Homo sapiens: one gene and its partners. The protein of the gene in region 6 purifies or fractionates together with the protein of the main gene of each other region. This does not show direct contact. Each region holds a gene or a part of one and is shown on either strand. Other genes may lie near its edges. The genes, in order: NDUFAF2, PLEKHG1, TJAP1, DIPK1A, SLC43A3, CHST15 and MTARC1.

Region 1 (3,500 bases), on a different chromosome or scaffold from region 6:
AAGTCCTTAAACTACAAAACTCTTAGAAGAAAACAGGGAAAAAGCTTCTTGACATTGGCTTTGGCAATGATTTCTTGGATATGACACCAAAAGCACAAAACAACAAAAGCAAAAATAGATAAGTCTGATTACGTCAAACCAAAATACTTCTGCAAAGCAAAGGATACAAAGGCAACCTATGGAATAGGACAAATATTTGCAAACCATATCTCATAAATGATTAAAAACCAAAATGTATCAGTGACTTCTATGACTTAATAGCAAAAAACCAAATAAATTGATTTTAAAATGGGCAAAGGAACTAACAGGCATTTCTCCAAAGAAAACATACAAAATAGCCAACAAGTATATGAAAAGGTTCTCAATATCACTAGCCAACAAGGAAATCAAGTTAAAACCACAATAAGCTATCACCTTATACTTGTTAGGATGGCTACTATTTAAAAAAAAAAAAAAGGACAGCAGAGCACGGTGGCTCATGCCTGTAATCCTAGCACTTTGGGAGGCTGAGGCGGGCAGATCACTTGAGGTCATGAGTTCCTTGATATTTAACAGGAAGAATTTCTAAGAGACAAAATTAACACATGAAAGGAAAAAGTTGTATTTTCAGATACCTAAAATTTTCTAAAATCTAGTACATAGTATATATGTTAGCTAGTCTCAGATTTCAAAGAACAGTTACGCTCAAGTTATCTCAGGTAACCAGGGAATACTGTAAAGATACAGGAAGAAAGACGAAAAACTCAACATTTGCAAAATAGAGACAACTGGAATGTGATTTAGGACACAACAATACCTATTGTGCTCTAATAGGAACCTTTCAACATGCTTGCCACCCTAACTTCTTAGAAATGGACATCTACTGATCCCTAATTATTCTCATATTTTCCTCTCTCTATATATCTATGAGTTCAAATTTCAACAGAAAAAAATTTGACCATGTTTGGTCTGTTACCAACCTATACAGAATGCCTATATGGGGCAGAATTCTCACACCTAGCCACATCATAGGTCTTTGGCTATCTTACAGCTAATGACTTGGGACCAGAGACATGGATATGGGTATCATGGTGACCTGTAAAGCTGGAACTAGTCCTAGTTACCAGCTACTTTGTCTAAAATACACAGCCAACACTCAAAAAGCACCACAATCTTCCAGTAAAACAATCCTAACTTATATCACTAGAAATAATGATTTAGAACATTTACATCTGTGTCTATGTGTTCCTCATTTGCATGGAAAGGAGAAATTCCTTTGGTTGTTGTCAATAGGGCACATACAAAGTATGTGTGACTATCTCAAATAATTTTATACCGACTAAATTTGAAAAAAAGCTTTACTATTAAAGCCAAAACACTGTTATTCAATGTAATCATGCATTTTAAAATATATATTCATAAATACAGTAAACCATAGCATTAGGTTACATTAAAAACATTTACCAAAGCCTACATTATGCATATACTCTTCCTCAATTCATAGGCTACTCCTTTTAAGCTCGTATAGAATTTACTGCTTGCTTTTCTCTAGACATTTACTCACTATGACTGCAGTAGAAACTACACCCAACAAATACATCAACCAAATGAGGACAGAATAAAAATCTTTTCAGACATTCAAAGACTCAAAAACTTTATCCGCCTTGAACCTCTTCTCAGGAGGCTACTGAAGCATATATGCTACAAAACTGTGGTGAAAGGCCCAGAATCCAGGGAATAAGATATCCAGTAGAGGGAAGAGGAAAGGGAATTATGGTCTCTGTGTAATGAATTCTTTCAGGTACAGTATGTCTGAAAAAACCTTCATTTGCCTTTGTTTTAACAAGGTATTTTTGTTGTGTACAAAATTATAGGTTGGCAGACTTTCTCTTTTGGTACTTTAAAGATATTGTTCCACTGTCTTCCAGCTTATATTGTTTGTTTTAAAAAAAACCCTGAACTCATTTTCGTCTTTCTTCCTCTGTAAGTAATGTATCTTTTTCTCTAGCTCTATAAAGATTTTCTCTTTATCAATGGCTTTGAGCAATTTGATAATAATATGCCTTGGTGTGGTTTTCTACACTTTTTGTTTTTGGAATTTGTTGATGATTTGGGGTCTGTGGGTTTATAGTTTTCATCAAATTTGGAATATTTTTGGCCATTATTTCTTCAAATATTTTTGACCTGCAAAATGACCTTTACCCCTCATGGTATCCAATTACATATATTAGGCCACTTGGGGGTATCCCACAGCTTGCTAATTGCTCTTTTTTTTCTGGTCTTTTTTCTCTCTGTGTTTTATTTTGGGTAATTTGTATTATTATCTTTCAATTATAAATGTGTAAGGACCTAACAATAGGTATTGAAAATACATGAAGCAAAAACTGATAGAACTGGAAAGAGTAAAAGACAAATGTAAACTTGTATTCAGAGACTGTAACATACTTTTTTCAATAATTGATAGAATAAGTACAAAAAAAATCAGTGTGAATATACAAAGCTTGAACAACTCTATCAACCAGCTTGGGCTAACTGACATTTACAGAACATTCAACCCCAAATAGCAAAATAGATAATACATTTTTCTCAAGCACAAACAGAAGATTTACCAAATTGCACCATACTCTAGGCCATAAAACAATTTACAATACATTTAAAATAACTGAAATCATATAAAATATGTTCTCTGAATATAATAGAATTAAACTAGAAGTCAATGAAAATCTCCATCTAGAAAATCTCCAAATATTTGTAAAGAACATACTTCTAAATAAATACATAGGTCATATAGGAAAAAATAAATAAGAAAATATATTCGTTACATGAAAATTTTAAGATAAAAATTTGTGAAATGTGGCCAAAACAGTGCCTACAAGAAATTTTAACATTAAAAATGTATATTAAAAAATAAACAGATCAAATTATGATCTCAGTGGCCACCTTAAGAAACTAGAAGAACATATAAAACCAATTGAAAGCAGAAGAAAACGATGACGATATAAGAGAAAGCGATAAGTTCTGAAACCAATGGAAAAAACTTACAGAGAAAAATCAGTGAAACTCAAAGCTAATTCTCTAAAATGATCAATAAAATTAACAAACCACTCATCAGATAGGCCAAGAAAACAATAGCCACAAATTATCAATTCAGGAAAGAGAGGATATCACTACAAATTGTACAAACATTAAAAAGATAATGAAGAGGTATTACAACTTTATGACTGTAAATTCAACATACTAGATAAAAAGGGCAAACTACTCAAAAGATAAAAACTACCAAAACTCACCTAAGACAAAATAGATAGCCTGAGTAGTCTTATACCTGCCAAAGATATTAAATTTGTAGGTTAAAAATTTATTATCTTTGAATTTTTAATTCCAGCCTTCCAACAAGGAAAACTCCAGGACCAGATGGCTTCACAGGCAATTTATATCCAACATGTAAGAAATAAGTAATACAAATTCTTCACAAACGCTTCCAGAAAATTCAAAAGAAGGAAACAAAATTTAACTCACTTTAT
Region 2 (4,206 bases), on a different chromosome or scaffold from region 6:
TTATCAACAACAATCATCTTCAAAGCACACCATATGTGCCAAACACTGATACGAATCATTTCATTTAATCCTTGGCATAACTTGAGACAAGGGCGGAGAAGAAAGGAGGAAAGGTGTGAAAATGAGGAAAGGTGAGAAAACCGAGAGACACCAACTATGATTTTTACTTTTCCTGGTTATGAAATAATCCATATCTAAGTAATTTCCTTAAAGAAGTGAAGGTCTCAAAGCTACAGAGACGTAGATGTGAGCATCACACAAGTAGGCTAATTCTAGATCACTGGATCTTAACCAGACTTCCTAAATCTTTAAGATGTAGGGCTGGACTAGGTCATCCAAGAGCCCTTCTGGGTTTAATATTCCAGGGACCTAATCATGCTGCAGGAGGATTAAAAGATGACAACTGCTTGAAAGACCAACCACCAGCAATGAAAGGAGTGGAGAGGAAAAGAAATCTGCAAAAAAGTGAACGGCCGCCATTAAGATAATAGCTTCAGGAATTGCTTTTGGTTGACGAAGGGCTCAAGAGATTTAGTGCTACTCAAGCATTTCCCATATTTATGGGACAGACTATGAACCATTCGATCTTAATTAAATCACTGAAAAATCATATCCGCAAAGGGGGAACACAACATAGGACTGGTTATTCTTGGTTTTGAAAAATTATGTTGCCACTTCCTATTGTTTTAAAAATGATCATTTAACTTCTTTGAACTACAGCCTGAATCCCCCACTGAAATATTTAAGCCTGTATTCGGTGACAGTCACCTATATTAAAGGCATTGAAGGAAGCTGGTGCCCCTAATTCAGGGTGCCCATTTAGAGTAGGGGAAGCAGGAAAATGCCACCAAGGACGAGCAGAATCGGGGCAGTTATCTGGCATCTGATTGCCAGGTAACTGTTTCTCACTTTGCTTTGCCCTTTAGCAGAGGACTTGGGGGGCTGCTACACAAGGATGGGGAAGGTCGTGCAGCCATTGCTGTTGACTGTGGACTGCTACTGATGACCTATTTGAGGATGAAGCCAGGGAGGTGGGAGCACTCTGAAGAAAAAAGTTTCTTTAGTCAGGTGGTTTGGTGGCTTAGAATTGGGACCTCAAATGAGACAAAAAGTCAAGTCAGGAATTGGGAAGCCAGACTCAAAATGCTGAGAGAGTCAAACATCAACCCGTTACTTTTCTCTCTGTCTTAAATATTGTAGACCAAATTACAGGGGGTAGGGGTTTGGGAGGGGGATGAGGAATGAGCAGGAGGCCGTAGAAGCTATCTGGTTCGTGTGCACTGCTTTATAAGGGAGGCAGCCAAGACGACCAGAGGCAAGTATCTTGCCCAGGGTCCCACAGGGCAAAATTAAAGTTCGAAAATTTTCTGATCTCCTGAAATGATGGGCTTGGAAATGTTTTTAACAGCAATTTAATCAAAATCCAAAATCTCTACATTTTTTAGAAGTATGCTGTCTACAGAATCTGAGAATCCAGAAGATGCCGGTTTTAACACCTGGTTGTTATTGTACCGCATTACAGGACCTACCCAAGCCCGGAATTCTGTTAGATGACAAACTGGACCCTAGAGTTAACATTCTAGTCTTTCCCCCGGTCTAAATACAAAACACAATATAGTTCTGTATCCAATCTGTTCAAAACTCCTAAACCAACTCTCAGTCTGAGATGGTCCTCGCGGGGTGATACCTGCCCCAAACACCCACACTCGGTGATTTCGAAAATACGTGCAGTAGCCTCGGCCACCTGCGGGTGGTACAAAGGGCGCCTTGAGGACCAGAGCTGGATGAAACGCCGGCTTACAAACCCCGCTCCGCCAGCACATTCAAGTCAAGGATCCAGCTCATTGTTTCCGAGGAGCGGAATGAATTGACCAGCCGAGCGCCGTTCTCCCAGTTAGAGCGTTCCCAAGCTTCCGGCTTCGGAACGGGGCTCACCGCGAGGACACAAAAGGGGCGAGCTCGGGCATCACTGCGGTTCCCCGCCGCCCGCCGAGGCCAGAACGCTCGCAGAGTCGCGGCCGCCCAGGTGTTACCGTTTACCCCGTGACGGAAGAGCCACAGGCTCTTGACTCCCCACCCCCTGAAAAGCGCATCTGCAGAACGGGGGCGCCCCCAAGCCCTGAGCGCCGCAGCAGCTCGGCCGCCGCCCCCACCGCGCGTCCCCGGGTCCTCGGGCTCCCGGCTTCGCTGCTGGGGAGCTGACCCAGCTGACTGGCTGTGGGGTCCCGTTCTGGGGCTGTCCTGCTGAGTCGGGGGTGGGGAAGCGGTGGCTACAACTCCCGGGTGCTCGCAGAAACTCCTCTGCGCGCTGATGTTGCAGCCGCTGGGGCGAGGGGCGGGAGCACCGGGAACTTGGGGGCGCGGAACCCCAAGCGGGGCGGCGGCGGGCAGCATCCCCGACCCGACTCCGACCCCCGAGACGCGGCGCCCCCCAGCGCCCTCCGTCCCCACCGCGCGGTGCCCCCGGCGCCCTCTGTCCCCACCGCTCGGCGCCCCCCAAGGCCCTCCGTCCCCACTGCGGAGGGGCGCGCAGGGGGCCGGCGGGGCCCGGGTACCACGCTCCGCCCGGCCCCACCTGCGGATGTGGGGCTCCCGCCGGAGGTCCCCGGGTCCCCCCTCCCATCCCTGGAAAAGTCCCCAGGGCGTCCGGGCCCGACCGGCGCTTACCCGGGGAGGGACGGCTTCGCATGCCCGGGCGGCGCTCGCAGGTCGGGCGGGGAGGGTGCGGGCTGCGCTGCGCCGGCTCGGGCTGCCGGAGCGCCCTGCAGCCGCCGTCGGGCTCGGGCTCGGGCTCAGGCTCGGGCTCCGACTTCCTCTTCCTCGGGCTCGGCCCCACTGCTCGGCCGCGCCCCGGCCCGCCCCTCCCCGCGCCCAGACGCCAGCTTCGGCGGCCGGAGCAGTGGATCGCTCGTCCCGCCTCCCCTCTGCCCTGAGGGTGAAAAAGGTGGAGAGGAGGGGGGCGAAGAGAAAGAGAAATTAGGCACTTGGCCTTGTCTCTGGAGCCTTGCCAAAGAGAACAGTCAAATTACAGCTTCGGGGGGAATAAAGTTTTTTTTTTTTTTAATTCTGCTACTGTTTTCGCAGACACATCACTTTTTTTCATTTTCCTAGCTCTTCAGGTTTAGCTTTCCTTTGGACGTAATAATTTCCTATGTGAGTCCTTTAAAATAATACCCAAAATCATGGTTTTAGTGAACATTCTAGTTTTACATAGAAGCTTTGCCGGTAATCAAGTGAAAAGAGGGGGAAGCCCGGTGTTCTTCAGGCGTCATTACCCTAATCACCTCGGTTAAAGCACCAAACGACCTTTGCCTAGAGAAAGTAAAAGTGGAAACGGAGGTAAAGAATAACCGGTGACAGCCAGAGAGATGTTTAAAGGCACCGGCTCTGCAGTAAAGTTATGACTCCAATCAAAGGTGCCTGCAGCGACAGTTAAAGGCATGTGAAGTCATTTCTTAACACTAATCTCCCGCCAAAGTCGGACGTATCAGGGTCGCCTGTGGACCCCCTTAGGTTTGGTGGTGGATTTGATTGCACTCTTAGTTGTTAACAGACCTTCAGCCTTACCACTTGCTAGCTGTGTGGCCTTGAGAGAACGCTTTAACCTCTCTGTGTTCTGTCTGTTTCCTCATCTGTAAAATGGAGATGATGATGATGATGATGATGATAGTGCCTACCTCATAGAGTTGCTGTATGTGATTTAAATAAGAGAATGTGCGTGAAGGGCTTAGGAGACTGTCTGGCACATGCTCTACAGCCTGAATAAATGTTAGCTATTCTTGTTGATTTTTGCCTTTTATCTGCTTTTATGCATATACATGATTATGGAAATTATCATAAAGACTGGGAACAAAACAAGGTTTGTGCAGTAAGGCTACACAGCATCACAGTTCTCTACCACGTGGAGTTTATGTTCTGTTTTATAATTTGAGTCTCCACAACTGACTTGTATTACCTAAAACTATGGGACTGGGTTATGCTTGGAATACATTTACCACGGTAGATTTGCAATGGGACTAAAACAGACATTTGCCATCTTCAAAGCATTGTTTCAGTTGGCCTTGCGATAACCTTGTGAGGTTGACAGGACAGGTGCTAGTCGCCTTTCACAGACAGGAAACTGAGCTTAATTAAGACCCTGCCCAGCTTCTGGAGCTCACACAAAATCATGCCTGTTACCCCATCTCTCTATGTTGTGATTTGTGT
Region 3 (3,500 bases), on a different chromosome or scaffold from region 6:
AGGCCAGGCGCCGGCGAAGCTCTTCATTCTCCTCCTGTAAGAGCCTGGCAGGGTGTTGTGGGATCAAGGGCAGAGGGGTATGAGAGATAGAAGGGCATGCCCTGGAGCTCCAGAGTGGGCTCAGGAAGGAAGGGATGACATGAGGACAGGCAAACAGGACAGGGAAACTCCTGGAGTCTTAGTCTGAGTCTAAGGCAGCATATTTCATAGGCCTGCTGGCCCTGGGAACACAGCCTGGGTTGGAGGGTCAGGGGAGGAAGAGGGGATGGTAGGGGACAGTCCAGCCTCCCTTCACTATCGGAGAATAGAAATAAAGAATTGGGGGTAGGGATATGGCTCCCAGCCTGTCTCTGGTTACAGCCCATGTCAGCTGGCCACCAAGCCCCCAGCTCCAGTTTCCCCACTGCACAATCAGGCTTCTCCATTATTCATCTCTTGGAAATCCAGCCCAGCACTGCCCTCCTCTCCAGAGGCCTCATGTGGCTAAAGGGCTGTAAGGGTGGCAGCTGGTACAGGAGCCAGGAGCTGGGGAAGGGCTCCTTAGCAAGAAGAGCAGGGCCCTCAGAGCCATTCGCCTCCTGATTCTACGCTCTCTTGAAGCCCATGGAACAATAAAATCCCATTTTCCAGAAAAAATATCCACAACATCAACACTCCTCCCAGAGTCCCTAAAACAACCCATCCCAACCTTTATTTCTACCTAATCCAAGGGAAAGTCCAACTGTACCAACAGTCTAGCCTGGAGCTAAGAGGGACAGAGTTGAGGCAGGGCAGTATCTCAGGTAGCAGATACTCACTTCATCCTTTCTGCATCAGTCAGGGGTTCCTAGGCAAAAAAGAGAGGCTTGAGGCTCAGCTCTGGACCACTGGACCCCCGGCTGGCTCACCCTCCAAATAGCCACAAGAAGGCTCAGGTGTGAAGCCCAAAGACTCTTATAGCAGAAGAGGGCTGCAGGGCTCTCTACGGATGGAAGCAATTCAGTAATGCTGGGACAAGCCTCGACTACCCTCTCCCATGCCAACCAGAAGATTCAAGAACCTCTTCCAACCTTCACCCTTAATCCAATCCTAAAGCCATTTTCAAATAAGTCCTGGCACCCAAGCTACCTCTCCCCAGGGGCAGACAGCCTCTCAGCTGTTCACTCGGCTCCTGGTGGGTCCTGTATCCACAGAGGTATGGCAGAGACCTTCCAGAAAAGTCAGGCTGAACTATACACACGAGTTCTGAGCTCTGACAAAGCCCTCAGCCTTGAGATGAAGACAAAGGCAGAATCAGGCTCTTGCAGAGGCTCAGGAAGAACAAGTGCATGGGAGAAGAGGACTAATCCTGACTAAGGGGAGGAAGTGCCTTGTCTGTCTTTTAACCTCCTGCCCCATCTTCCCCAAACCCCTATGGCAGTCATGGCTCAAGAGTCAAGTTCAGCCAACCACAAAGCAGAGTAGGCCCCTGCTATCGCGAGAGGGAAACATCAAGGGGCCTATTCTATGTGGAACTGACTGCTTCAGAAGAGCAGCCTCTGGCAGAAAATGGAGGTAGGTGGCTTCCTTTGTCCATTGACTCTGACAACTGGATTTCACCCTATTCTACTGCATACTGATTATACAGCCTTCACCTCACCGAGCCTTAGTTCCCTCATTTATAAAACTGAGGTAATGCTCGCTGGGTAGCACCTAGCATAATAGCTGGCATCTTAATTTAATGTTCCCTGAACTGAAATGAGCAAGTCATGGCTTTTCTACCTTGAATCTGACCAAAGCAGGCTACAGTATGCCTGATGCTCAGCACATGCTGCGTCTCAGGTTCTTTAAATGTGCTCCACGCACTGTGACCAGATGGAGATATGGCTGCAAGGGCAGTAAACCACTGTGGCCCTCGTTTCTGCCTGTGAGTGAAGTTAATGGGGCAGGAGAGCCAATGTTTTGCAGCTGACTATAGGCCCCGAAGAGCAGAGTCCGGACCTAACAGTTCCTGGCAGGGAGTACATATTCAACAAATGTTAGCCAAACAAAGCAAAGCTGGAGGAAGGGCTGGACTTCCTGGGGACAATGAAGAGCAGCTGTGCTGGTGGGAAGTGGCTGTAGCACTGCCTCCTGATATGCCCCAAAGGGGCCACAGGTTGAATGGCTCTACTCCACTACGGAGGACCAGAGTCCCAACCACTAGCAGATTAGGACCCCTCAGTCTACTGGGCTGCCTCTTGCAGGGAGAATATCATATGGGATCATTTCTGCTAAGCTACAAAGACTCAGGGGTTCCCTGACATGTGGACATATACTCACAGACAGTCCCCCTTGAGCCTACATTACCCCCACCTGCACTACTGCGGCTAGGAGACCTCAGGCCTGCAACAGCAAGGCCCACTCTCACCCCAACTCAGGACCAGAAGCTCAGGCAGGAGAAGTCAGCCAGACACCCAGCCTCAGGGGCCTTGCCTCTGCCGGTCAGGCTGTGATACCAGTCTTGCTGACCTCCTGCTCAAGCCGGGATCCAGGAATTTCCAAACGCAGCTCCCGATGCTCTGGTGGTGCCTTACGGTAGGGTTTCTTAGCAGGGGCGGCACTAGTCATTCTGGGAGGTGACGGCTCCTCCGCCTGCTGAGAAGCAAGAAGGAGGCAGGCTCAGAGATGTGGCCAGAAGGACTCTGGACTGAGAAAAAACAAAGATGGTGAAAGGGGACATATGTTGAGGCCACCACATAGGCTGACAGGCCTGGGCCATTACTGGAGTCACTAGAGGGGCAGGACTTAGGTGTGTCAGTCCCCATAGGTCAAAGGAGTGCTGGAGGGTGGGGCATGGGTCCAACGGGGAACAGATGGGTGGGAAAGGCAGGGCCTAGGGCCTGAACACCTAGGTTCTAAGAGTGGGACAGGGAGCTTCAAAGCAGCCCACCACCCTCCTTACCACTCTCCTTTGTGGGCTCTGAAGGCCTCAGAAGGTAAAACTGCTCTCTATGCATTAGTTTTCTCAACTCTAAATTAGCGATAAAACAGCATCAATTTCTTTTTTTCTTTTCTTTTTTGAGACAGGGTCTTGCTCTGTTGCCCAGGCTGGAGTGTAGTGGCGCAATCTTGGCTCACTGCAGCCTCGACCTCCTGGGCTCAAGTAATCCTCCTGCCTCAGCCTTCTGTGTAGCTCGGACCACAAGCATGTGCCACTGCACCTGGCTATTTTTTGTACACAGCGTCTCACTTTGTTGCCCAGGCTCAAACTCTCAAGCTCAAGCAATCCCTCTGTCTTGGCCTTCCAAAGTGCTGGGATTATAGGTGTGAGCTACTGATTCCAGTTAAGAATAGCACCAATTCATAGGGTTGTTGGGAAGATGATGTAAAACACTTAGGAAATGTTGAATAAATGTTAGTTTAAAAAAAATCATAACCAAAAATGTGAGTTTGGGGATACAATCCAGGATCCCCAGTGGGAGTCTCAAGGCCCAAGAGAGCTCTCTGGCCTCAGCCACTGATGACCAAACCCCTGTGGCCTCCACCACTCTTTTCACCAG
Region 4 (3,500 bases), on a different chromosome or scaffold from region 6:
AAACTGTGGTACACCCAGACAACGAAATATTATTCAGCGTTAAAAAGAAATGAGCTATTAAGCCATGAAAAGCCATAGAGGAGACGTAAATGCATATTACTAAGTGAAAGAAGCCTATTTGAAAAGGCTACCTAAAATACTACGTGATTCCAACTAGATGACATTTTAGAAAAAGGCAAAACTATGGAGACAATAAAGACCAGTGGCTTTTGGGGGCTCAGTGGGGACAGAAGGATAAATAAGCAGAGCACAGATTTTTAAGGCAGTGAAACTACACTCTATACAATAATGATGGATACATGTCATTATGCATTTATCCAAACACACTGAATGTACAACACAAAGAATGAACTCTAATGTAAAACTATGGACTTTGGGTGATAATACGTCAGTGTAAGTTCATTAACTGTAAAACATGTACCATTATGTGGGGGATGTTAAATATAGGGGAGGGGGCTGGGCACGGTGGCTCACGCCTGTAATCCCAGCACTTTGGGAGGCCAAGGCAGGCAGATCACGAGGTCAGGAGATCGAGACCATCCTGGCTAACACAGTGAAGCCCCGTCTCTGCTAAAAACACAAAAAATTAGCCAGGAGTGGTGGCGGGCACCTGTAGTCCCAGCTACTTGGGAGGCTGAGGCAGGAGAATGGCATGAACCTGGGAGGCAAAGCTTGCAGTGAGCTGAGATCGCACCACTGCACTACAGCCTGGGTGACAGAGTGAGACTCTGTCTCAAAAAAAAAAAAAAAGAAAAGAAAAGAAAGAAAAAAGAAAAAAAAATGAAAATAGGGGAGGGGCCAGGCACAGTGGTTAATTCCTATAATTCCAGCACTTTGGGAGGCCAAGGCAGGAGGATCACTTGAGCCCAAGAATTCAAGACCAGCCTGGGCAATGCAGTGGGACCACTGTCTCTTAAAAAAATATTTAAATTAGCTGGACTTGGTGGGATGTGCCTGTAGCTACTCAGGAGGCTGAAGCAGTAGGATCACTTGAGTATGGGAGGTAGAGGCTGCAGTGAGCCATGATTGTGTCACTGAACTCCAGCCTGGGTGACAGAGGGAGATCCTGTATCAAGAAGAGAAAAGAAAAGAAGAAAAGGGGAAAAAAAAGAAAAGAAAAGGAGGGAGGCTATTCATGTGTCAGGACAAGGGGTATATGGGAAATCTCTCTGCATTCCTCTCAATTTTGCTGTGAACTTAAAATGGCTCTAAAAACTTTTAAATCTTTAACTTAAAAAAAAAATCTGAGGCACTGAGAAGACTACAGTGAAGAAACACTTTTACTGTATGGTCCAGTTTGAAAGAAATGTGGTAAGGATGCAATCTGCCTGAGAATTCACCATTTCTTTGAGCTTCTAACAAAGGTTCAAAAGCAACTAATGGTAATATCAAGTGGCTCTCTGTACACATACCAGTCTCAGAAAGCTAATCATAGTTCTGGAGATTAAATTTCAGGCAAAGGCAAAAGCTAATCTCTGAACAGCAGGTCTAATAAAGTTAATGAGAACTATACAAACTACAGATCTTCTCCCTCTATTGTCTTTGGAGGATAGAGAACAACCATAGGCTCTAATTATCCTTAGATTTAAAATAATCCTGGAGACTGAAAATGGGCAAAAAGCCCATTTTTACTACAGTATTTGGCAACATTACTACTATTACCAATTAATCTGTATCAGTAACCCTGTCTGGCACTAAATCTCACAAAATATCCACATTAACTCATAAGGAACCAAACCATCCACAGCAGTCATGTTTGAAAAATTGTACTAATACGAGCCAAAGTGCCAGGTATCAGAAATGTTAAACAAGTGCAAACACCCTAGCTAGAACATGCCATCTACCCATTCACTCATAACAACCCTACTGAACACATACTGAAATTGCTAGGGCAGTCATTTTCAAGAGGATACTTCTAAAACTTTAAGCCCCTTACAAGCAAAACGGCTTGAAAACCTTCAAAGGACCCAAGTACATGGGACTTCAAATTCCATTAGAACTGCACCAACTTTTCATATGCAACAGAACACATAGGCAGAATGATTGGAATGGAAAATGTGTATAATCTAAGTACAGAGAATTATGCTGAATTGTCTTGACTTTCATTCTTTCAGGACTTAACGATGGTGAGAAGGAAGAAGGTATTTTAAACCAAAACCAACAAATTATAGGGTTGCTGTGTTATCAGCTTCACTCAGACTATGAGTAAACCCTAAACAAAGTAGATCTTAGTTTGTAGAAAACACACTGCTAAAAAAAGACAAATGCAGGTGTCATTCTGGGTTATCACACCCAAGCAGGCCACAAGTAGTATGCACCATAATGGCACGTGGAAGAAAATACTGCCTAAAAATGGTTTAAGCAGTTAATACATCCACAGTTTCTGATCTCAGAGGCAGGATTCTACTCTGTTCAATGTGCTGCATCATTTAGCCAGTCCAGGAAGTGTTATTTCCCAAGTAATGTTTCAACAAAATATCTGGAAAACATGGAACTGTAAATTAGCTTGCTTGCTCTGGGCAAGATGCCTTGCCATGAGAAGCTTGTTGCTCAGGTAAACGTCTGTTGGCCCTTCCAGGCAGGTCACAAGTCCTTCTAGCCCACAGAGAGGCTGCACAGACTAACAGTGTGCCTGCCCAGCTCCCCTGGAAGAAGTGCTCCCTGCACCAAAAAGCTGACCTTGGTGGAATCTGCAGCAAAAGGCAGAGAGAAGAAGGACGACTTTCATGAGATAAACTCGGTTCATTTATTTTTCAACTGTTTTATGGAGATATACTAATAATTCACATATCCTACAATTTATTCATTTAAAGCATAACGTTCAGTAGGTTTTAGTATATTCACATACTTGGGCAACCATCACCACTATCAATTTTAGAACATTTCTGTCCCCCTCAAGAACACTTCATATCCATCAGTAGTTACTCCCCATTTCCCCCCAGGCAACCACTAATCTATCTTTTTGTCTTTATAGATTTGCCCATTCTGGACATCTCATATGAATGAAATAATACGTGATCTTTTGTGACTAGTTTCATATATTTAATGTTTTTAAGGTTCATCCATGTTACAGTGTGTATCAGAACTTCATTTCACTTTATTGCTGAATAATATTCTGTTGTATGCATATACCACACAAGTTCTTTTCTTCACAGGCAGTAGAATCTCTTCTGCTATATAAGCAAAGCTATAAACAGTGAATAGGTGCCTGCATTAGCTCATGAATGTCTATTATGGCTGAAAATATATCATTAATTGTGTAATGCCACAGTTTTCCAAAAGCGTTACCAAATGCCACAGTGATATCTGGATTAATAAAAATACTGAGAATGAAGTTCCTTTACAAGTAAGCTGACTGCTTAAAAGTTTTCTCCTGTACACTGCAGAAAAAAGGGAACTCACAGCTCCTAAGGCCTGAACACCTCAGGACATAACTGGTCTTTGACCCCATCCAGTTAAAGACAAACAGCATAACTGCAAGTATACAAAGCTGGTCTCTG
Region 5 (3,500 bases), on a different chromosome or scaffold from region 6:
GGCATTCCTTTGCTGCTCACTTACTAATTGTCAGACCCCATGTGCTCTCTGATTTCATCCTCACAATAATCCTCTGAGATATCCTTATCTCCATTTTCTAAATGCAAAAAATGAGGCTCAGAAGGGTTAAGTCTGAGCCATCTTTCTGTTGCTAGGAAGAGGCAGAGCTGGGATTTGAACCTGGGCCTGCCCTACTCTTTTCATGCTTCCTAAACTTTGCTGCTTATTAGAATCACTAGATTCACATAGAGATCTTAGAAAAGGAAGCCTGGCTCTCACCTCCAGACATTCTGATTTAACTGGTCTGGTCTGCAACCTGGGCATCAGAGTGGCTAAAAGGTGATTCCAAAGTGCGGTGGAATGTGGGATTCACCATGCTATTCCCTCCAGTCTGAGTCTCAGGTTCGGCTCACAGTCCTTGGCCTTGCTGGTGGGGCTTTTGTTTCCATAGCCTGTGCCCTGGGAATGGCACCACAAAGGAAGAGAAGGAAACAGCTGAGCATGAAAACAGGGAGCTACAGTCAAAGGAGTTCCTTTCAGCGAAGGAAGGTGAGCCCTGCTGGCTAACCCATCTCTCCTCCAGACCCAAGCCTCTCCTTGTGCCTTTCCTGGCCCCTCACCTCCAGAGCTCCCCCAGGGACCCAGAATCAGGAAAGGCAGGACAGAAAAAGGGCCTTAGGCATCTTCCCAACCCTCTCACTTAATGGAGGGTCCAGGGCTTTCGTCTCTTTTCTGTCCCTCTTTTCTCTATTTCGCATCCTATCACTTCCCCACCCCTTGAAGCCCGCCTGCCATGGGTTGCCTTCCCTTCCCCCCACTCCTCGGTTCTGCCCTCTTCTGTGATGCCATTGCACTAAGTCTGGTACAGTGCCCCCATTTCTCCAGGTCTCCTGGGTCCGCCCTCTCTTATTGTCCCAACTCTATCACTGCTTCCTTTCCTTCCTCTCTGTTCTGCGTCTTTGGTTACACACATCACAAACCGCAGCTAGCTACAGTAGAAATAAGAACGGGGTGGGAGAGGAGATGGGAGATGCAGGTCGAAGGACAAAAAGGAGCAGATGAGCAGGATGAACAGGCCTAGAGATCTAATGCACAGCACGAAGACTGTAGGTCATCAAACTGCATTGTGTTTGGGACTTTCCTAAACAAGTAGATTTTAACTGCTCTTGTCACAAAACAGGTAGAAATGTGAGATGATGGATATGTTAATTTGCTTAACTGTAGTAACCATCTTAGTAGCTATATGTATCCTATGACCTCATATTGTATATCTTAAATATACAGAATAAAATTGATTTTTTTGTTTTTATTTTTACCATCTGACAATTGGATCCAAAACATGTATTTATTTATTTATTTTAAAGAAAGAAGAATAGGGTTCTGGGAAGCTTCCAAAATCAAGGGAGGACATTGAACTTGCCAGGGTGTAGGACCTATTTTAGATTAAGTCCATCCTAATCTAAACTCATGGCCGGTCTGCCTTGTTAGGAGGAACCATCTCATTGGTTAACCTTGAGAGAGGAACAGAACACTGAATTCATGGTCCCATCTGGACCATGAAGATTAGGGTAGAGGAAGATTTCCCAAAGAAACTCAGGATACTGGTATCAAAAGAAAGGGAGGTGCTGAGGAGCAGGTTAGAACAGAGTATCCACACTCATTCTCCTCTCCCTTCTGACTTTCTCCTCTCCTTGTCGTTCCTTTCACCTTTCTCGCTGAGAAAGATCAGGAAGGTATTACTGCAAGAAGTGTCATTGACCAGGCTGTGAGAGACAGATCGGATTTCAATAGAGAAGAACACAGAGGGTCATCCAAGGTGGTAGGGCCAGCATGACAAAGCAGGGAGGTGGGGATGTGTGAGTCCGAGGCAGGTGCAGAGCACGCCGGGTGAGTTCTGGGAGCCAAGGGTAGAAGGTGGGCCCGGATCTGAAATGTTCCATTGAAGCCTCCACACTCCCCATCCTACCTGTCCACTTTCCTCGTAATTCACGCCCAGATCCTCCTCTCCCCATTAGAGACCCCAGGGGCAGGGCAGAAGCAGGAACTCCGCTCCTTCTGGAGCTACGCTTTCTCTCGGCGCTTTGCCTGGCACCTGGTGTGGCTGTCTGTGATACAGTTGTGGCACTACCTCTTCATTGGCACTCTCAACTCCTTGCTGACCAACATGGCCGGTGGGGACATGGCACGAGGTATGTGGTAGGGCTGGGAGGTAGCCCATCTGCATGTCCCAGCTGGGAACACAGAGCCTCCCAGCAGGGCTGTACACACCAGAGGAGGGTCTGATGGTGTGGGGAGGAGGGACATGCAGACAAGGGTAAGGTGGGAGAGTCCCTGCCTGGAAGGGAGTTTTGGAAACTTCTCATCAACCAACCTCTCTCTTCCTTCTGCAGTCAGCACCTACACAAATGCCTTTGCCTTCACTCAGTTCGGAGTGCTGTGTGCCCCCTGGAATGGCCTGCTCATGGACCGGCTTAAACAGAAGTACCAGAAGGAAGCAAGAAAGACAGGTGAGATGCGGGGGAGGGCAGGGGCTGGTCAGGGAACCAGGAAGGGAGGTCTTCATTTACCCCATGACATCTTCTCTCGCTCTTTTTTTTTTTTTTTTTTTTTTTTTTGTGATAGAGTCTTACTCTGTTGCCCAGGCTGGAGTGCAGTGGTGTGATCTCAGATCATTGCAGCCTGCACCTCCTGGGTTCAAGAGATTCTCCTGCCTCAGCCTCCCAAGTAGCTGGGATTACAGGCGTGTGCCACCATCCCCCACTAATTTTTGTCTTTTTAGTAGAGACGGGGTTTCACCATGTCAGGCTGGTCTTGAACTCCTGACCTCGGGTGATCTGCCCGCCTCAGCCTCCCAAAATGCTGGGATAACAGGCGTGAAGCACCATGCCTGGTCTTCTCTTTTGTTCTTAACCCTGTCTAGTTGCACTCATTCATTCATTAAAACACTAGTCACTGAGTGATAGTTATGTGTCAGCCATGGTGCCAGACACCAGGGATTCAATGACAGACAAGATAGATGTGTTCTTTTTCTCAAGGTGTTCTCAGTCTAGAGGGTGGAGAAAGGCAGGTAGTCAGGCAGTTATAATCCGTGAAGCAAACCCACAGGGGGCCATGGGGGGCACAAAGAAGCGCACATAATCTGTTCTAGGTGAGGATGGGATTGGTGTCAGGGAAGGCTTCCTGGAGGGAATGGCACCTAAGCCAAGACCTGAAGGATGAGTAAGGAGGGAGGAGATGAAGAGGCGGGGCCTTGGAGAGTGGCCCAGGAGCACAGTGGGGTCAAAATGGTGAATGAGAGAGTGAAACATTGAGGAATCTGGGCAGATGAGTCGGGCTGGCTAGGGCACAGAGCACTGGGGAATCTTAGGGAAGTGGCTGGAGAGAGAGAGGTAAGAAGGGGTCAGGCTGTTTACCACATCAGGGAGTTTTGGCCTGATCCTTGGACCTGGTTGGAGGAGTAGAGGTATGCTGAGGTATTTTAACCTGCTGGGTCAGGAGGG
Region 6 (3,216 bases):
TGCAGCACCTTGATCTCGGGTCTCTGGCCTCCAGACTGAGAAAATCAGTTTCCGTTGTTTGTGGTCTTTTGTCCTGGCTGCCCCACCTGAGTGCACACCACACCTCCTTCTGCGGGCTTGCCCTCAGCAATAAGGACATGTGCCAGAGACACCAGGGGTCTCAAACTCACAGCTGCCAGGGGCCAGGCAGGCCACCGGAATGAGGCCTGTGGTCACTTAACCTTCAAATTTGAAGGTCTGAAGACAACGCTAGGCCTGACTGTGGCTGGGCCAGACCTCCCACCCTGACTCACACCCCAACAGGACTCGCACAGGGAGTCCCTGCTAACATCTGAATCCTTTTCTCTCTGGTCTTGAGTTTTCTTCTGCCTGTTGCTCGCACAATCACACCTCGTCTCTCAGCAGCCAGCACAGCTGTAACTCCTCTTTACACAGAGCCTGCACAACTCGAGCAGGTGCGACACTAAACCACTGCGATTCACTCATGCACCAGGAAGAGCTTGGCTGCAGAGGAAGAGCACGCGCTCCACAGGCGTCACTCTTATGGGTCCATCTTTAATTATGTTAAATATTAATAAAAGTACAGCGTAACTGCGATTCACTTAACATACCTTACAGGACTAAGGGAGTACAATTTAACACGGTCACAACTTTTGAGAACAAAAAGGAACTTCAATACCATGTTGTGAGAAATGCTCCAATTTGCTTTGGTTTTGAATGGCAGGCTCGAGAACCACCGCCCAGAACGGAACCTATTCTGTCAGCAAGAGCCGGGCCTCGAATGAGAGGAAGCAGAGGCAGCCGAAGTGCCCTCTGGAGAGAAAGGCCCCTGGAGGGAAAAACCATGTCTGGATGGCATTGAGTGGCACAGAAGGGATGGGACTGCATATATAAAAAAGATCCGCATAATAAACCAAATAATATTGGAAATAATACCTTCAGTAATACTTCTGTAAGAAGCAGAATTACACCACATGTTATTCACATGCATAGGAGTGCATAAGAAAAATCCCTTGTTGTAATTATGGTTGGTGTGGAATAGTAAAATATGTACTGAAAATGACAAGTTAATTGGCAGAGAAATTAATCTATAAAAGGGTTGTGTCCAGAGCGGAGGAGCCTCATTAGCAACTGAACAGAACCCACTCAGAAGACGCACTCACCCACACGTGCGCGTACACACACACACACGCGCGCACTGTACTGCAAATAAATATACACACACACTGAAGTGATCTCTCCCTAAAGCATCCTTGTGCTCAGGCCAGATTTCCCTGCTGGCGGCTGCTCCCAGTGCCGGCTATAGAGAAGGTGGGGACTGTCCCTGCAAGTGGGAGTTCAGGACACACGCTCCTTCAGTAGCAAAAACAGCCCTGGCCATCCTGGCGCTCAGAGCCCTCTGCACACCTTCGAACGGGCTGTGTGTCCCTTCTCTGATGGCAGAAAGACAACACCAGCAGAAAGACGGCTGAACAACTGCAGATCCTCCTACCCCCGAAGCCTGGTCTGTCTCACACATACAAGTTAGAGCTGGGTAGACGGGTGCTTGCACTTTCTGGCTTTGGTGGGCGAGACCTTGGCCTGAGAACTTTGGTTCACAGGAAGCTTCCCTTGACAATACTTGAGTGCAAAGCTTCATCCAGGTCCCACCTGGGCTGTTGCCAAGGATGCTCAAGCGTTCTCTTCAATCTTCCCTGTGACTTCCAAGAAACGACAAGATCTCTAGCCCATCCATCGGTAAACCAAGCTGCCAAGTGGCCTGGAAAATTCCATGAAGAACACGGCTCTTAGAAACCTCATTCCAAATCTCAACACGCCACGTTCAGCCCAAGTTCAGCTTGTGCATTGTGTTTTGGAATTGGGACACGAGTATCTATAGTCCCTTGCTGGGTGAGGAACTTTGACCACACGCAGTGGAGAATGTGGAAATAAACTATTTCCAATGGGAAGGCAGAGAAATGGAGCCTGTAGCCGGCCAGAACTAAAAATTAAAATCCTCTGTTTCTCTGATGATCTTGTAAACCTGATGAGGGCTTGAATTACCTAGATTTTCCAAGAAGTGTTCAATTCCTTGAGGTTGCTCATTCTGGCATTAACAGCAAAAATTTCTCTTCCAATTATAAACTGAAGTTCTTGAGAAAACGTATGAAGAGGCAGCAGAGAGAGAGCCAGGACTGGTTAAATGCAGAAAGTGGTTTTGTTTTAAACGCATTCATTTTCTATGTTAAACATAAGTCCACAAGGACAGAATAGGAGGAGGTCAGAAAGATGAAGGTGCTGCCAAAAACTGACTTATTTTTTTCCTTTTGGAAACAGTGACGTTAACAGGGTTTACATCTGAAGAAACTGGAGGGCTGAGTTTGGAGTAAAGGAGAAAAAAAAAATGAAGAGCCTCCATTCTCGAAAGACTGCGGTTCTCTGTCCCAGTGAGGTTAGCGATCGCAACAAGAGTGTTTCAGAAGTGAATGTGGTATGATCACACCTGTGAAGATAGCCATTGAATACAGACAGTCTGTGCAACACGGCGAGACCCCATCTCTAGGGGGAAAAAAAGGGAACGTGAAGTGTAAGTTCCAGCCAGGCCTGTGGCATGACCTCTGGCTTGCTGACTCAGAACCCAGAGGCTCTCCAGAAGGCGGAGGCGGGCAGGGCCAGGCTGCCTTCCCTAGGTGTTCTCTCCACACCCAGTGCAGGCCAGCTGGCTGCATCCCCAAGCTCCAGGACGCTCAGAGCAGAGCTGAATTCTTGAGAAACTGGGGTCTCCAATGGCCTCGGATAGAGGAGCTCTGTGAGGGGTCCATTGCTGAGCTCTCGAACATCACGAAGGAAATTCCAAAATGGTTATAATTCATGTGTGCCTAGAGTGGCAGAGTCCTGGGGTTTTCCATACCATGAGTGAAACAGTTCCCCGCAAAGAGATTTGTAAAATCCTGATGATGACGGCATTGGCGGGCCCAGCACGTGCAGCAACAATTCAGCTCTCACGTCGTCTTCCACGCAAACGCCTCATCCGCGAGGACCTGCGCCAGCCTAGCGTTGAAGGGCCTGTAGAAATCCCGCAGAATCTTCTGTGTGATGGGCCACATGGGCCCCAGGTTCCGGTCCTCGGGACGCCGTGCATTGGATGCGGGGCTCTTGGTCATCAAAGCCTCCTGCTTCTCACTTAAGGGCCCTAGAATAAAAGAAGACGAGTCCCGTAAGGCAGGAGGCATGGCA
Region 7 (3,500 bases), on a different chromosome or scaffold from region 6:
ATCTGACCACACTGAGCTCCTTAGGAGAAGCAAGTGCATTTCTTCAACCCTTGTTCTCATGTGTCTATTCACAGCGCATGCCACACAGGGGCAGCAACCCACTCGATGATGGGTGAATTACTAAAAACAAGGCCGGCTCAGCCACCATTGTGTTACCGCCCAGCTTCACATACAGAATGTTCTCAACTAGGGAACACTCAGAGATAGAGAGAGAGATACGGGTTTTTAGAGTAAGACTCAATTGAAAGAAATCTCCGAGATCTGAAGTTCTACTCTGGGCCATCTCCTCTTCTCCTGTCATCCGAATCTTACTGTCACAGAATTTTGGGGTGGAAATGGCTTCAGCATGACCCTCGGTGCACAAATCACACAGGGGAGAAAGAAAGCTTAAAGTCGATCATAGGGAAAAAGCTGGTACCTGAGCCAAACTCCCAGGAATGAAACTCTTCCTTACCTCCCTGTGGTACTTAATGTCCTAGAACTTTTCCACAAATTGTCATCGACCTTGATTCTCACAGCTCCCATCAGGCGAGGGAGTCATTGAAACTGCCCGTGTTTTACAACTGCAAGAAGCAGATGCCTCGGCGAGTTTGGTGACCTGTCCAGGCTTGTACGGTCACTTGCGGAAGCAGGTGGATTAGAATCCAGCTGTCCCAGCCCCATACATATGCCCTAGAATTCTCAGGGTTCCTCTGGCCTTGTACAATTGGGGTTCAAAACCCAGCCCCTCCTTGCTGTGGTATAGCCTAGGGCAGGCCACCTCACCTCCCCAAGCCTCTCTCTTCTCTCCTGTAAGATAGGAATGATAGCTTTATCCCGCTGGGCTGCCGTGAGGCATAGAAGAGACAACATACTTAAGCGCAACACAAGTATTCATTCAAAACCCTCCCCACTCATTTCTCTTTTCCTGAGAAGGAACGTTCTCAGGAGAAATGGCTCTCCTAGCCATAGCTGGTGGAAGATGAATATCAAGGAGATGGTCAAAGGCAACCAAACACTGATTATTTTCCTGTTGTCTAAGTCAGGCTGGCCCATGGTGCACAGGAGCAGGACAGGCAGAAATTTCTTGTCACAAAGAAGCACTGAGAGATGCCCAACCCAGGACCTTGGGGGACATGCACACAGTCCACCCGCCTCACACTAGGAAGTTCTCCACCATCTTTAGAAGAAACGCTACCCTTGGAAGTTTGGAGCAATGAGTATTTTATATGAAGCATTAGCAGTGGATTTGGGCGTACTTTTATTATCCTCCATCGATTGATATTGCTTTTATACATCTCATAAATTACATTATCCAAACTGACCCTTCAACAGACCCTTAAGGTAACCCTAGGCAGAAATATGATCATCTCATTGTTCAGGCAAGGTAAATGGGACTTAGCGGGGCTGCTCAAAGTCATGCAGAAGCCAGTGCAGAAGCTGAAACCAGCCGTCACATCTTCTGGTTTGAATGTGGGAATCAAATTCTTAGATTATTTCTCTTTCAGCATAGTTTTGCCTCCGTACAGCAAAAGTGAAGAATATAATTGGCTCCTCTGAGGATAAAAGGTTAAAACTCAATTGCTTTGATTCCATTTTTCCCTGTTATGGAGGAAATGGGCAGACGTAAGAACCACTATATGGTCCCCTTTACCTCTCCCTTCTCAACATAAATTTGAGGCACAACCAGAGCTCCTGAATTCCTAGCTGTGGGTCAGGGTTTCTGTTGAGTATCCACAGCTGGTGGCCACTCACCATGCCTCTAGGCCACCAACCTCTGCCTTCATGGAAGCCCAGGGAGAGAATCAAGTTAAATAGCCAAAGGCCATTTATTACAAAGGTAAATTTGCTGCCAGAATCCTGTGGAATCCCAGAAACCAAGCCTCAGGGCTGTTCAAGCTAAGTCACCACGCAAACATCTGAGGGCAGATGGAAGGTGGCACTGCAAGCATTTCAGGGTAGTGCCATGAAGCTTAGGGGCAACAACCTCTCCCAACCCTCACCCAGCAGCCTTGCAGTAAATGCCTGTCTTCTCCAAGAGAGCCGTCTACTAAACAGTAAGACCATCCTTTAACAAGACAGGAGCACACACTTTCTTTGTTCCATGGCCCACACAGATCATGTAGTCTATGCAAGAAAATGTGACTCAACAACGAACCTGTCAACTCAGAATTCTCCTTAGAAGCCTTAGATACTGAACTGCCTCCTTGATGACAGTCTCTGACCCATCAACATTTGTATCCTCCACACAGAAGTCTGCACTTATTAAGTGCTGAATAAATCTAAAAATCAAATTGTTATGTATTACAGAGTTGATAAATAATGCACCCTTCAGAATAATCTAATCCAATGTCAAAGACTCTCATACCTTAAAAAAGAAGTCAAATCCAAGGAAAGATCCAAAGGGGCATAGTGTTACCTCTGCATAGACATCGCATCCTGAAATTACAATATTGGGCCTGAAGTTGGTTGCTTTAACTTTCTTCTCTAGCCTGGAGTTGAGATCCGCCAGCGACGCCTCAGAAAGGATCAAGAATGGGCTGGTGTCTGAGTAAGCAATCTGATAAGGAAATAGACATTGTTATAACACATGGCACACCAACTTTTCAGTGGTTAGGTGTGCCTAGTTCCTAGACATAGCCTCCATGCTCCACCCCACCCCACACACAATCTTTCAAAGTAGTTCTCTTGTTCTTTTAATAGAAGTCACAGTGACTCAGAAGTTTTCAATAGCCTTGCAGATAGCAGAAACTGCATGGTGGAATGAAGGGAACAAGGACTCAGAATCAATCCTAAGCTGCCACAAGGCATGTGCCCTTGGGGACATCACTGAACCTTTCTAAGCCTCCCATTTCTCAAATGTTTAATAAGGTGGTTGAGTTTGATGACCTCATTATGTTTGATTTAAATGTTCACTAATTCCATGAATACTTATTTTATGCAACTTACAAATTAATATTTATGTTGACCATAATTTATGCATTTGCTTGTTTCTTTATTTATATATTTTGAGACAGAGACTCCTTGTCACCTGGGCTGTAGTGCAATGGTGCCATCACAGATCACTGCAGCCTCAACTCTCTGGACTCAAGCAATCCTCCCACCTCAGCCTCCTTAGCAGTAAGGACTACAGCATAATTTATTTTTTTTATGGCCATGGTAAAAGCAGTATATGGTACTACAAACCCTGCTTTTATGATGAATCCTTAGAGCTTTATGCCATTAAGGCTGATCATTTGAGTCTGTGTATCTCCATACCCATGCCAACTTGCACAATTGGAATCTGACATACAACTGCAAACTGTAAAAATTCTGGACTCCATGTGCAATTACAGAATGGAATGAAAAAAAGACACTGGTGCAGAACAGTTTTGAAACCCTACTGGCATCAGAATGCTTACACAAATAGGAAGGTAGATGCTCAAGGGCAAAAATTCAAGAGTCCCCCAAACAAAGAAACAAACAATGCTTCCAAGGGAAGGGCTTTATTTCTGCCTACTGCTTGTGATCTGAGCTACCAG

Evidence for each region.
Region 1: the proteins of CHST15 (region 6) and NDUFAF2 purify together in Homo sapiens (affinity purification with mass spectrometry; one large-scale study listed by BioGRID and IntAct). This does not show direct contact.
Region 2: the proteins of CHST15 (region 6) and PLEKHG1 purify together in Homo sapiens (affinity purification with mass spectrometry; one large-scale study listed by BioGRID and IntAct). This does not show direct contact.
Region 3: the proteins of CHST15 (region 6) and TJAP1 purify together in Homo sapiens (affinity purification with mass spectrometry; one large-scale study listed by BioGRID and IntAct). This does not show direct contact.
Region 4: the proteins of CHST15 (region 6) and DIPK1A purify together in Homo sapiens (affinity purification with mass spectrometry; one large-scale study listed by BioGRID and IntAct). This does not show direct contact.
Region 5: the proteins of CHST15 (region 6) and SLC43A3 purify together in Homo sapiens (affinity purification with mass spectrometry, with the first as the bait; one large-scale study listed by BioGRID). This does not show direct contact.
Region 7: the proteins of CHST15 (region 6) and MTARC1 purify together in Homo sapiens (affinity purification with mass spectrometry; one large-scale study listed by BioGRID and IntAct). This does not show direct contact.

The regions. Positions count from the first base shown.
Region 1 is NC_000005.10:60,951,705-60,955,204, reverse strand, and holds part of NDUFAF2 (NADH dehydrogenase [ubiquinone] 1 alpha subcomplex assembly factor 2), read right to left. Parts: intron 1-3,500. UniProt on the Homo sapiens protein: Acts as a molecular chaperone for mitochondrial complex I assembly. Complex I functions in the transfer of electrons from NADH to the respiratory chain. The immediate electron acceptor for the enzyme is believed to be ubiquinone.
Region 2 is NC_000006.12:150,598,479-150,602,684, reverse strand, and holds the start of PLEKHG1 (pleckstrin homology domain-containing family G member 1), read right to left. Parts: upstream 2,801-4,206; 5' UTR 2,690-2,800; coding exon of another isoform or gene 2,668-2,689; intron 1-2,667.
Region 3 is NC_000006.12:43,498,070-43,501,569, reverse strand, and holds part of TJAP1 (tight junction-associated protein 1), read right to left. Parts: intron 2,648-3,500; exon of another isoform or gene 2,593-2,647; 5' UTR 2,569-2,592; coding exon 2,470-2,568; exon of another isoform or gene 2,434-2,469; intron 827-2,433; coding exon 798-826; intron 45-797; coding exon 1-44. UniProt on the Homo sapiens protein: Plays a role in regulating the structure of the Golgi apparatus.
Region 4 is NC_000001.11:92,954,963-92,958,462, forward strand, and holds part of DIPK1A (divergent protein kinase domain 1A), read right to left. Parts: intron 1-3,500.
Region 5 is NC_000011.10:57,413,622-57,417,121, reverse strand, and holds part of SLC43A3 (equilibrative nucleobase transporter 1), read left to right. Parts: intron 1-451; coding exon 452-549; intron 550-2,015; coding exon 2,016-2,189; intron 2,190-2,390; coding exon 2,391-2,507; intron 2,508-3,500. UniProt on the Homo sapiens protein: Sodium-independent purine-selective nucleobase transporter which mediates the equilibrative transport of extracellular purine nucleobases such as adenine, guanine and hypoxanthine.
Region 6 is NC_000010.11:124,007,168-124,010,383, forward strand, and holds the end of CHST15 (carbohydrate sulfotransferase 15), read right to left. Parts: exon of another isoform or gene 3,173-3,216; coding exon 2,982-3,172; 3' UTR 501-2,981; downstream 1-500. UniProt on the Homo sapiens protein: Sulfotransferase that transfers sulfate from 3'-phosphoadenosine 5'-phosphosulfate (PAPS) to the C-6 hydroxyl group of the GalNAc 4-sulfate residue of chondroitin sulfate A and forms chondroitin sulfate E containing GlcA-GalNAc(4,6-SO(4)) repeating units.
Region 7 is NC_000001.11:220,796,913-220,800,412, reverse strand, and holds part of MTARC1 (mitochondrial amidoxime-reducing component 1 precursor), read right to left. Parts: intron 2,540-3,500; coding exon 2,399-2,539; coding exon of another isoform or gene 2,348-2,398; intron 2,262-2,347; exon of another isoform or gene 2,138-2,261; intron 1,582-2,137; exon of another isoform or gene 1,224-1,581; intron 1-1,223. UniProt on the Homo sapiens protein: Catalyzes the reduction of N-oxygenated molecules, acting as a counterpart of cytochrome P450 and flavin-containing monooxygenases in metabolic cycles.